Linked DNA regions of Homo sapiens: region 1 is linked to region 2. A link means that fine-mapping ties the variant in region 2 to the expression of a gene that starts in the linked region. Tissue or cell type: whole blood. Region 2 holds a variant in brackets; the other region holds the start of a gene. All regions are shown on one strand. Distances are between the middles of the regions.

What was found. PIP is the estimated chance that this variant, and not a neighbour inherited with it, causes the effect.
Region 1: GPX7 starts here. The variant in region 2 is fine-mapped to the expression of GPX7 in whole blood (TOPMed, PIP above 0.99).

What each region holds. Positions count from the first base shown.
Region 1 is chr1:52,599,304-52,604,672 of GRCh38, forward strand. It overlaps GPX7 (glutathione peroxidase 7), which reads left to right and starts at 3,068. Exons shown (of 3, transcript NM_015696.5): 1 at 3,068-3,244. The coding sequence starts at 3,107.
Region 2 is chr1:52,631,421-52,636,748 of GRCh38, forward strand. SHISAL2A (shisa like 2A) reads left to right here and starts at 1,748. Exons shown (of 3, transcript NM_001042693.3): 1 at 1,748-2,255. The coding sequence starts at 2,074. It overlaps LOC124904178 (a long non-coding RNA gene), which reads right to left and starts at 2,035. Exons shown (of 2, transcript XR_007066084.1): 1 at 1,888-2,035. RefSeq lists silencers at 1,626-1,735, 1,826-2,015, 2,026-2,075. The variant C/G (reference allele first, on the strand shown) is at 2,184.

The DNA.
Region 1 (5,369 bases), 32 kb before region 2:
TCCTGCCTCAGCCTCCTGAGTAGCTGGAATTACAGGCATGCACCACCACGCTCGGCTAATTTTGTATAAACATGTGAGCCACCTCGCCCGGCTCATCTATCTGGATTTTAACAGGAAATAGCTTGGCCAAACTTGCAACACTCCAAGTTATATGAAGTAGAATTTGAGAACTCCTGGTTACTGGGACACTCAAGAAGGGGCTGAGTGAAAGGGACAGGTGGCAGGAAGAGAGCCCAATGGTTCCAGAAGGCAGAGAGAGAAGAGACCATTTAATAGCTGTGGGACCCATCACAGGCTTAAGGCTCCCAAAAGAGATGGGGAAGAAGGAGCAGGATGGGCAGGGGCACCTTATGTATGCCTTGGCCCTTGCCTGGAGCGCCGTTTCCTCTGCTCTCCACCTCTCCTGATAATATTGCCTTCTCCTGAAGAGTGAGGCCACCTTGGTGGTGCAGAAAAATCCCATGGTCTACACCTGAAGGCCTGGGTTCGAGTCCTAGTAACTATATGATCTTGTGGCCAGCTTCAAAACCTTTGCTTGCCACACTCTAGAGAGTGACTTGGCACTCAAGGCCCTTCTCTATCCTGATGACCCTTCCAATCTCATCTGCCCCACACCCCTTCTCACCTCAAACAGCCAAGCACTTCTCTGACTCTGTGCTGTCATAGATACTGCTCTTTCAGTCTGACGTTGTTGCCCTGACCCTCCTAGAGAATTCCCATTCCTCTTTCAAGATATAACTCCAGTATCACCTCACACCTCCAGAAGGCCTTGCCTGGCTGCTCAGGCTAGGTAGCAACTGCCTCTGGGTCTCTAGGAGGTAGCCCTGGAGCTACGTCAACTCCAACATCTAGACCACATCTGCTCTTGCCCTTTCCTATCAACTCCACAGAACAGCCAGAAGGATTTTTTTTTTGAGATAGTGTCTGTGTCACCCAGGTTGGAGTGCAGTGGTATGATCATAGCTCACTGCAACCTTGAACTCCTGGGCTCAAGCAATCCTCCTGCCTCAGCCTCCTAAATAGCTAGAACCACAGGCACATGCTACCACACGAGGCTAATTTTTAATTTTTATTTTTTTAGATGGAGTCTCGCTCTATCACCCAGGCTGGAGTACAGTGGCACAATCTCTGCTCACTGCAACCTCTGCCTCCCGGGTTCAAGTGATTCTCCTGCCTCAGCCTCCCAAGTAGCTGGGACTACAGGCGTGTGCCACCACACCTGGCTAATTTTTTGTATTTTTAGTAGAGATGGGGTTTCACTGCATTAACCAGGATGGTCTCGTTCTCCTGACCTTGCGATCTGCCTGCCTAGGCCTCCCAAAGTGCTGGGATTACAGGCGTAAGCCATCGCGCCTGGCCTAATTTTTTAATTTTTTGAAGAGACAGTTCTTGCTAGGTTGCCCAGGCTGGTCTTGAACGCCTGGCCTCAAGCAATCCTCCAGTCTTGGCTTCCCAAAGTATTGGGATTACAGGTGTGAGCCACCGGGCCCTGTCGAAAGAGATCTTTCTACAACAAAAGACTCATTGTGATACCTCCCTGCTAAAAAGAACCTTCATTTCTTGGTTTAAAGACCACAGTCCCTACTGTGGCCTACTAGGCTCTGTGTGATCTCACTCCCTCCTGCCTCTCCACCTTTCCCTCTCATCCTTTGTCCTCTCTGTTCCAACCAAATGAGGCTTCTTTGTTACTCAATGCACCATGTTCCTTTCCCCCCAGGACCTTTGCACTTGTATGTTGCTTCATCCTGACCAATTTCTCCTCATTCTTCAGAGCTCAGCTCAAATCTCCCTTTTTCTGGAAAGCCCTCCATGGCCCTCCAGGCTAGTTTAGGTGGTACTCACCACAACAGTAATTTTAGAGCTATTTATAAATTATTTAATTCCTGTGTCTCCCTGGATAGAGATAATGCCCTCCTGTTCATCCCTGCCTAAGAATCACCTAAAGCAAAACTTGGCATAGAAAAGGTGCTCAGGAAGTTTTTGTTGATGACCACAGGAGTGCTTAGCCCTTACCACATTACATAAAATCTGCAGTTTACCTGGTTTCTCTCACACCAGTCTGTGAGTTTCCAGAAAAAACTCACAGCCTGTGAGTACAGGATCCAGCTCCATGTTTGACATTTCATGGGCTCAACAGGGGTTTTCTGAGCAGGGGGAGACATTGTGATGTGCTGCCCAGATCCCCCATCACTGAGGACTTAGGACAGACACCAGCTGCTAGGAGTGCTGTTAGCACAAAGCCTTTAATGTCAGCTTCTCCACAGACAGGGCCATCTTGGCCCTTGTTGCCCCACTTGCCAGGTGGCCCCACATCCAAGGACTGATAAAGGCAGGATGACCTGGCCATCTTAGCTCATCTGATGGGCTACTCTAGCTCTAGAGTCCCTGTCGAGTCAGCTAAAACTGTCTTGGGGCCTGCATGGAGCTCACTACTTTCCCCCTGTGCCACTCCTGTTCCCTCCCATCCTTCCCACGCCTGTTGATCCCAAGGGTGCTCCCTCATAAACATCCTGCACTCCAATCTCCATCTCAGAATCTGCTTCCAGGAACCTAACCTGCAACAGGCCCACGGTCCTCTCTTCTTCTCCCAGCCATCACTTTCAGGGAACATGCATTCATTCACCTGAAGTTTGCAGGCACCATTCAACTGTTAAAGTGTTTCGCATCCGTTTTTCTATTACTTCCATCCTATACCGACTAGCTCCACTTAACATGTGGAGAAACTGAGGTCGGAGTGGGGGCGTGACCAGGCCAGCCTAAGGCCGCTGCACTAATGAGAAGCTGAGCTCTCAGATTTTTGCCTCCCTGTCCCTGCCAAGTCGCTGTTTCCTGGGACAAGAGGGAGCCTCACTGAAACGAACTCCGGTCTCAGGGGACAGAATCCTGAAACCCTGGCTCTGGGGTCCGGGGCAGGGGTGCGCTGCCTCAGGACAGACGGTGAAACTGAGGTCCAGAGCCGGACATCCACCGCCTGCGGAGGGAACGAGAACGCGGCGCGTCCTGCCTTGCGGGCCGAGCGGCGCCAGAGCCGCCTCCTCCCGCCCCCCGCGCTAGATCCCCCCGCCCCGTCTTTGCCCTCGCGACGCCGCCACCTCCGGAACAAGCCATGGTGGCGGCGACGGTGGCAGCGGCGTGGCTGCTCCTGTGGGCTGCGGCCTGCGCGCAGCAGGAGCAGGACTTCTACGACTTCAAGGCGGTCAACATCCGGGGCAAACTGGTGTCGCTGGAGAAGTACCGCGGATCGGTGAGTGCGCGGGGTCTGGCGGCGCCGCTGGGCCCGGCCTCGCCCTGGCGGGGCCTGCTGGGGACGCCCCGCAGCCCGGTCCCCCGCGCGGTGTGGCTCCGAGGACGCTCCAGCCGCGCGGCCGCCAAACCCCGGCCCCCGCCCCGCTCGGCCGTGACCTCTGGCGCGGCGCCCCCATCCCGCGCCCGGCCCGGCCCGGCCCGCGGCTACGTGGCACGGCCTTGGCGCGGAGGAACCCGAAGCGCTCGCAGTCGGCGCCCACTTCGCTACCGGCACCTTTGGGCAGCGGGGTCCAGACCTTCGCCGGGAGGCCGGGCACCACTGCCCAGCCTTTGCCATTCACGGGTGAAAAAAGTAACCGTAGCATCGTGCGGCCTTTCCCTCTCCCGTCCTCATTTTCTGCATCTGGAACGGGGAGTGGCTGATTCGGAGTCCAGTGAAGAACACTGTGGAGATCAATGTGCAGGGCAGAGAGAGAGTTATTTCAGATGCACGGAGACCTCACACGGATCATCCCTGGGAGAGGGCACAAAGGCCCAGAGAGGGCAGGCATTCGCACAAGGTCACACTACACTAGAAAGACGGGGCCTGGAAGAGAACCCCACCGCCACATCCGGGGTCCTCTCTAGGCCAAGTCCTTAGATGGCAGCTCAGGGGCACACATAAGAGTCATCCAGGCTAATTGCCCCCTCATTACCAAGAGGGAATCTAAGCTCAGAGAAGACTTCGGAGAGGAAGGGTATCTGGGTTGAGTCTTTGAATACGAGTGGATTTTAGCAAGACTAAGAAGCAAACAGCAAGAAGGGGGTGGGGGGGCGCGGGGCCAGGAGTTCCAGCTGTTGTGCTTCAAAGAGTCTAAAGCTGGAGGCTACGAGTGGTGGAAGATGAGGCTGAAACGACTGGCAAGGGAGCAGGCGGGACCTTGAACACTACATTGAGAGGCCTGCATGTCACATTATGTGCAGTGAAGAACTCCCAGAGTGGACCTCTTCAGGATGGACCTGGGGACTGGTGTGAAATGGCTGGGGAGTTGAAATCTAATGAACAGGTGGGCCAGCGTCCAGTTTTGGATGAACCACACAAAAATAGATGTCAACATTTTTCTCCTGGGAGCAACACCATCTTTAGTGAAGACCAGTACTCTATAAGCCTTGAAATTTTCGATTATGCTGGGAGTCTTGGGGACAGTAATCCCTGCTTGATTGTCCCCCAGAGTGTCGTGAGTTTCAAATCAGATGAAGGCGTGGATGCACTTAGTAAACTGTAGAGTGCTTTGCACCTGTGTTTGGTGGATCCCAGCAGGAACTTCATTTAGAACTCTGGGCAAAGAACCAAGAACAGGGCCCGCTCCAATTCAGGCCTCCTGTTCTCTCTAGGGCAGCTCACCAGAGAGCCCCAGGTTTAGCGTCTGACCAGCTCTGCTACTTATTAATTCGTTGTTCATTATTGAACACCTACTGTATACTAACTAGATACTAGGTCAGGCCCTGGGGATACAGTGGTGAACAAAACAGATACATTTCCACTAAATGGAGCTTACATGGGGTAAGGAGAAGAAAGACAATAAACAAGGAACTGAGAAATGCACGAGGTAATTCCTAGTAGTAGTAAGTGCTAAGACAAAAATAGAACAAGGTCACACAGCTAGTAAGACAGTAAGAATTTGAACCCAGACAGTCCAGCTCCAGAGTCTATGCTCTTAGTTGCCAAGTTCAGCAGTAAACCAGGGAACAGGGAGTCCAGAAAAGCTGTAATTGGTGCTGAGTTAACCCAGGCTAGGCTTGCTGCTTGGGCAATATGCTCATTCCTTCACCTGCAAACATTTACTGGCTCCTACTACATGTCTGACACTGGGTCCAGCTCTGATGACATAGTCATGAGCAAGATTGACATGGTTGATGCCCTCAGGCTAATTGGGACCATAGTCATTTAGACCAGTATGGATGAATGGGTGACCACTTGGGAATGTGTGGGGTTATGTGTAGTGTGTGCCTTTGTGAATGGTTTACTTCTTCTGTGTACAAATCTGAGTCTGTGTCTGTGCTTGTATATGTACATATGTAAATTAACTGTGTGTACTTGGGTGTGTCTGTCTGTGTTTTGGTTTCTAAGGACCAAGCTTTTT
Region 2 (5,328 bases):
GTTGCAGTGAGCCGAGATTCCAGCCTGGATGACAAAGTGAGACTCCATCTCAAAACAAAACACAAAAAACAAAAACAAAAAAAAACCCACTATTCTGAATAGGGGTTCATAGGCTTCATCAGACTGCCAAGGGGGACATGGAGACAGACATGGGTATCAGCCCTGCCTGGGCCATTGATCGCTGTGTGGTATTGGACTTGTTATTTCAGGCACATTCACCCCTGCGTGGCTCACCCCAGAGGGCTGTTGGGAGGAACAAATTAATTCTTGGCTGGGAGAGGGTTTTGGAAATTGTTGGAGGCTTTCTAGTTTTGCCAAAAGCCAGGGCAGAGCGCTTTCTTCCTCCCAGCTGATCTCCAGGCCTCCAGGAAGCCTCTCCCTCCCAGAGGATTCCTCCCCTGTACTCTCCATCTGATAAAGAGGCTGAAGTGCACCCTCATTAGTGTAGGCTCTCCAGCTCCCAGTCTGCTCAGACCCACAGCTCAGGGGAGGAATGTTCTGGAGGATAATAACAGTTCCCTCCAGCTTTCATATTTGACCTTACAGTGACTCTTGAGGACACCGCCTCCCTCAGAGCCCTCCCCTGCTTCCTCAGATGGTGCCCCTCTGTGTCCAGGTCCTTGCATTTCCCTTTTTACTGCCCTGTGCTGTGATCGTCAGTCAGTCTGACTCCTCCATCAGACTGTGTGTTTCTCAACGGCAGGCCCAGATCTGATCCCTCTCAGGGGCCCTAGGGCCCACCCAGGTCAGGGCAGCGGCACAATCAGCATCTGAGGAGCTGGCCTGGGTGAGGACAAGGAACCCAAAGCTCAGAGAGAAACAGCAGGGAAGGGGTAGAGCTGGGCTGGAGCCCAGATCCCCTGATACCCACGGCCCGTTCCCCACACGTCCAAACCAAGGGCGAAGGAATCGGGGGTGCCCGAGGCACCACAGTAACTATTTCCTACCCTACCCACTGCTGTGAAAAATGTAGAGCTAAGGCACTGAAGGTGCTGTATGAAGCCCTTCCAGATGGCGTAAGGCAACAGGGTACATGGGGGAAGCCAAGGCACTGAGAGCCCCTTCAGACTGTGGTTCTCTGATGCTAGTGAGAACACTGCCCTTGTTCTCTGGAAGTAATTTTTCAAAATGGACAGGTCTGCTGACTTTCTTTGCTGGTCAGTGTGGGGAAGGAGGTTACCGTCTGGGCCCATCCACACCCATATTCGGCTCCTTGTCCCAGGCCAGTGGCAGGCAGTATGAACAGAAGAGTGTGGACATTGTCCGTGCACGAGCTAGCTCTCAGCGAGACTAGCAGGGACTCCAGATGATGAGGACATCTAAAAGCCCGCTAGAAAAGAGGCACCATGAAAGCCGCAGAAAGAGCAAGGACTTCCTACTAGGCCGCCCCCGGTTAAAATCTCGTGGGCTTAGGAACTCCGGGAAATGGCTTCTCTCTGGCCCTCAGCTCTCACCTTTAACACGGATGCGAACATCCCCGGGCCCCTGGGTTTTTGCGGAGGTTGGGTGAGGTTGTGTTCACTCTCCTCACTGACCCCGCCGTGTGGTCGCCGGCTGGTGCCTTGTCTGTCTGCCCCAGCCCCGAATGCCCCGAGACTCCCGGCGCCGGCTCGGTGCAGGTAAGGCGCCCGCGCCCTGGCCTCGAATTCCCGCCCCGCCACTCTGGCCGCGTCGTGCTGTCGTTGCGCACCCAGCGCCCTCGTGCAGGCAGGGGGAGCGCAGTGGGGAGGGGGCAGGAAGCGCAGGCAGAGCCAGGCGAGCACGCGGCTCCCGGCCCAGCTCCCCGCGTCCGCTCCGGCTCCTGCCGCGTTCCAGCAGCCGTCACTCCCGCCGCCGGCCCCCGCCGCCCGCCCCGCCTGCCCCTACCCCTCCGCGCGGGCCGGGCACCTGGCCGCCGCTCGGTCCTCGGGGCCCCGCGCTGCTGTCTCTGTCTCGGCTTCTCTCGGCCCCTGGGTCTCTTCGTCTCTGCCGTTCTCAGGCTCAGCTCCGTCTCGCTCGGTCCCTCGCTTCCCCGCCGGGCTCTAGCCGGCCGTCTGGTGGCCCGAGGTGGCGGCGGGCTGGGCGCGGGGCGCGATGAGCGGCGCCTGCACGAGCTACGTGAGCGCAGAGCAGGAGGTGGTGCGCGGCTTCAGCTGCCCGCGGCCGGGGGGCGAGGCGGCCGCTGTCTTCTGCTGCGGCTTCCG[C/G]GACCACAAGTACTGCTGCGACGACCCGCACAGCTTCTTCCCCTACGAGCACAGCTACATGTGGTGGCTCAGGTACCGTCCCTGGCCCTCACCCTACCTTGAACCCCACTCCAGTCTCAGCGCCTTCACCCCAGCCTCAGCCCCCACCCGAGTGTCCACCTGAACATCAGCAGCAAGCTCTAGTCCTTACCGTCCTCATGCCCACAGCATCAACCACCCCGTGAAACCCCATCTCAGCTCGATTTCCTCATCCTGACCCCAACCATTATTTAGAGCCATGCTCGGACCTCCCCCTCCTCTAATCCAAAACAATCCTCACTCTATCCCCACCCCAAACTTCATTCCATCACCACCCTCATCCCAACCCCAAATCACATATCAAGCCTCCCCCTAACAGCAACTTCCATCTTCAAACATTCACAGGCAGCCCAACTCCACCCCAATCATCATCCCACCAAGGTGCCCTTCCTAATATCAACACCAGCCTTATTCCTGACTTTCCACACTCCCCAGTACTGACCCCAGACCTTATTCTATCACCAGCCCCAACCTCCTCTTCTGTCCTGCCTGCAGTCCCACCTCAGCTCTTCTCCCACATCCTGACTCCAAATATTATTAATATCTAGATCTACATCCAAACCTCAACCTCCAGACTTAACCCTCGCCTGGTGCTACACCCCAACCCCAGCCTCAGCCCAGCGTCAACCCTTGGTTCCCTTTTGTATTTAGTCATTCTTTCGGGCACTCTCTACTGAGCACTTGGTGTGTGCCAAGCCCTGTGGTGAGTGCTGGGGATGTACCCCATCCTCAAGCTAAGGCAGAAGACTCGGGAGTCAGAGCTGCCTCCAAGTTCATCATGAGACAATGGCATAGTGCAGAAGCTAGCTCAGGCCATATTCATAGAAGTGTTGACTCTCCACCCATAGGACCTCAGTTTCCCCATTTGTTCAGGGAAGAGGTTGCATTCCTGGAGCCTAAGTGTTGGCTTGAGAGGGTAATAGGTCTCAATCCCCCTGGGTCTCCAAAGGCCTTACCTGGAGAATGGAACTTGATCCTCAGCCTACTTTGGGAAACAGGCATCAGCAAAAATTGAGTGGGCCATCTCAGTAGTTAGTGATTTTCCTGTCCCTGGAGGTATATGAGCAGAGGCTGCTGCCCTCTGGGTGGGAAAGGACAGTGTCCTATGCCACGAAAACTTCTCAAGTCTCTGGCTTTTCATCTATCAAACGGGCAGTAGGATGATCAATCATTGCCCTGATTTCTGACTAAGGCAGTGGTAACGGTCAAATGACATACATAACAGAGCTGAAATCAACTTGACATATGCCAATGACAATTACAAATATTATTGCTTTTTCTAGGTGACTCGATCCACAATTCTAAATGATTTTCAGATGGCCAGGTTATCAGATCCTACATATTTGTGCTATCTATAACCCAGGGAATTATATTAATGTATTTTCTGTTCATCCATATATTCATTCATTCATTCATTCATTCTAGCCTTTACTTTGTGCCAGGCACTTTGCAAGGTATTGGAGACACAAAAATCAATTATTCCCTGCCCCTGAGGAACTCACAGTTTATTTAGAGATACAATGGTATTCACTTGACAAGTTCATTTTGCTTGCTGCCCAAAAAAACCAATGCACTGAGAACAACAGGTTTTGCAGCAAAGAAAGAGTTTAATAATCACAGGGCCAACCAAGTGGCAAAATAGGACATAATTCTCAAATCCACACCCTCATTCCCCACCCCCCACCCCACCAGAGAATTCGGAGACTATGGTTTCTCAAGGAATGGTGGCAGATGGGGCTAGGGAATAGGGAATGCCAATTGGTTGGGTTAGGGATAAAATCGTAGGGGATCAAAGCTACCTTCTTGCACTGAGTCAGTTGCTGGGTAGGGGAGCTCACAAGACCAGTTGAGCCAGTTTATTGGTATGGGTTACTGGTCCAGGTGGCACCAACTGGTCTATCAAAATGAAAGGTCTGAAAGATACCTCAAACACCAGTTTTAGGTTTTACAACTCCTCCTATAGGAGGAGTTGAGGAGATTACAAATCATGTGACCTCCAGCTACACGACTCCTGAACCATAATTCTAACCTTGTGGTTAATTTGTTAGTTTAACAAAGGCAGTTGCAGTCCCTGAGCAAGGAGGGTGTTAGTTTTAGGAAGGGGCTGTTATCATCTTTGTTTTAAAGTTAAACTATAAACTAAATTCCTCTTATAGTTAACTTGGCCTGTGCCCAGGAATGAAGAAAGACAGCTCGTAAAGTTAGACACAAGATGGAGTCAGCTATGTCAGATTTCTCTCACTGTGATAATTTTTCTGTATCAGATTTCTCTTACTGTGATAATATTCACTAGGGCACTTTCACAACATTCACCTAAAGTGAAACAATGAAGTTTTGTTGAAGGCCCACTGTGTAGTTGGCATTGAGCTAGGCTCTGAAATAAGATGGCACTGACCTCCCTTGTAAGTACAGAGACAATGTGGAGCTTTGGGGCTGGTCAGAATCTGTCACTTATTATCTATGTGGATTGGAAAAGTTATTTAACTTCCTAGTATTTTCTCTCAACTTTAAAATGGTGATAGAGATATTTGTGTGATAGTACAGAGACAGTGTGGAGCTTTGGGGCTGGTCAGAATCTGTCACTTATTATCTATGTGGATTGGAAAAGTTATTTAACTTCCTAGTATTTTCTCTCAACTTTAAAATGGTGATAGAGATATTTGTGTGATAGTACAGAGACAGTGTGGAGCTTTGGGGCTGGTCAGAATCTGTCACTTATTATCTATGTGGATTGGAAAAGTTATTTAACTTCCTAGTATTTTCTCTCAACTTTAAAATGGTGATAGAGATATTTGTGTGATGGAATTGTAAGAACTAAGAGAAATAATGCACATGAAAGTGACCAGTGCATATGTTAGGTGCTCAATAAGAGAGTTCCCTTTCCTTGGTTCATAGGTGTGGGAAGTGAAATTCAGTGTGGAAGTGAATTGTCCGAGATCTCCTAGCAATATCATAGCAGACTGAGACTTAAAGAACATTACCTAAGACTATCCAAGGGTTAGATGCTCTCACACATTCACAACCCTGGCACTTCTCATTTTACACATGAGAAAACTTGAGAAAGGTT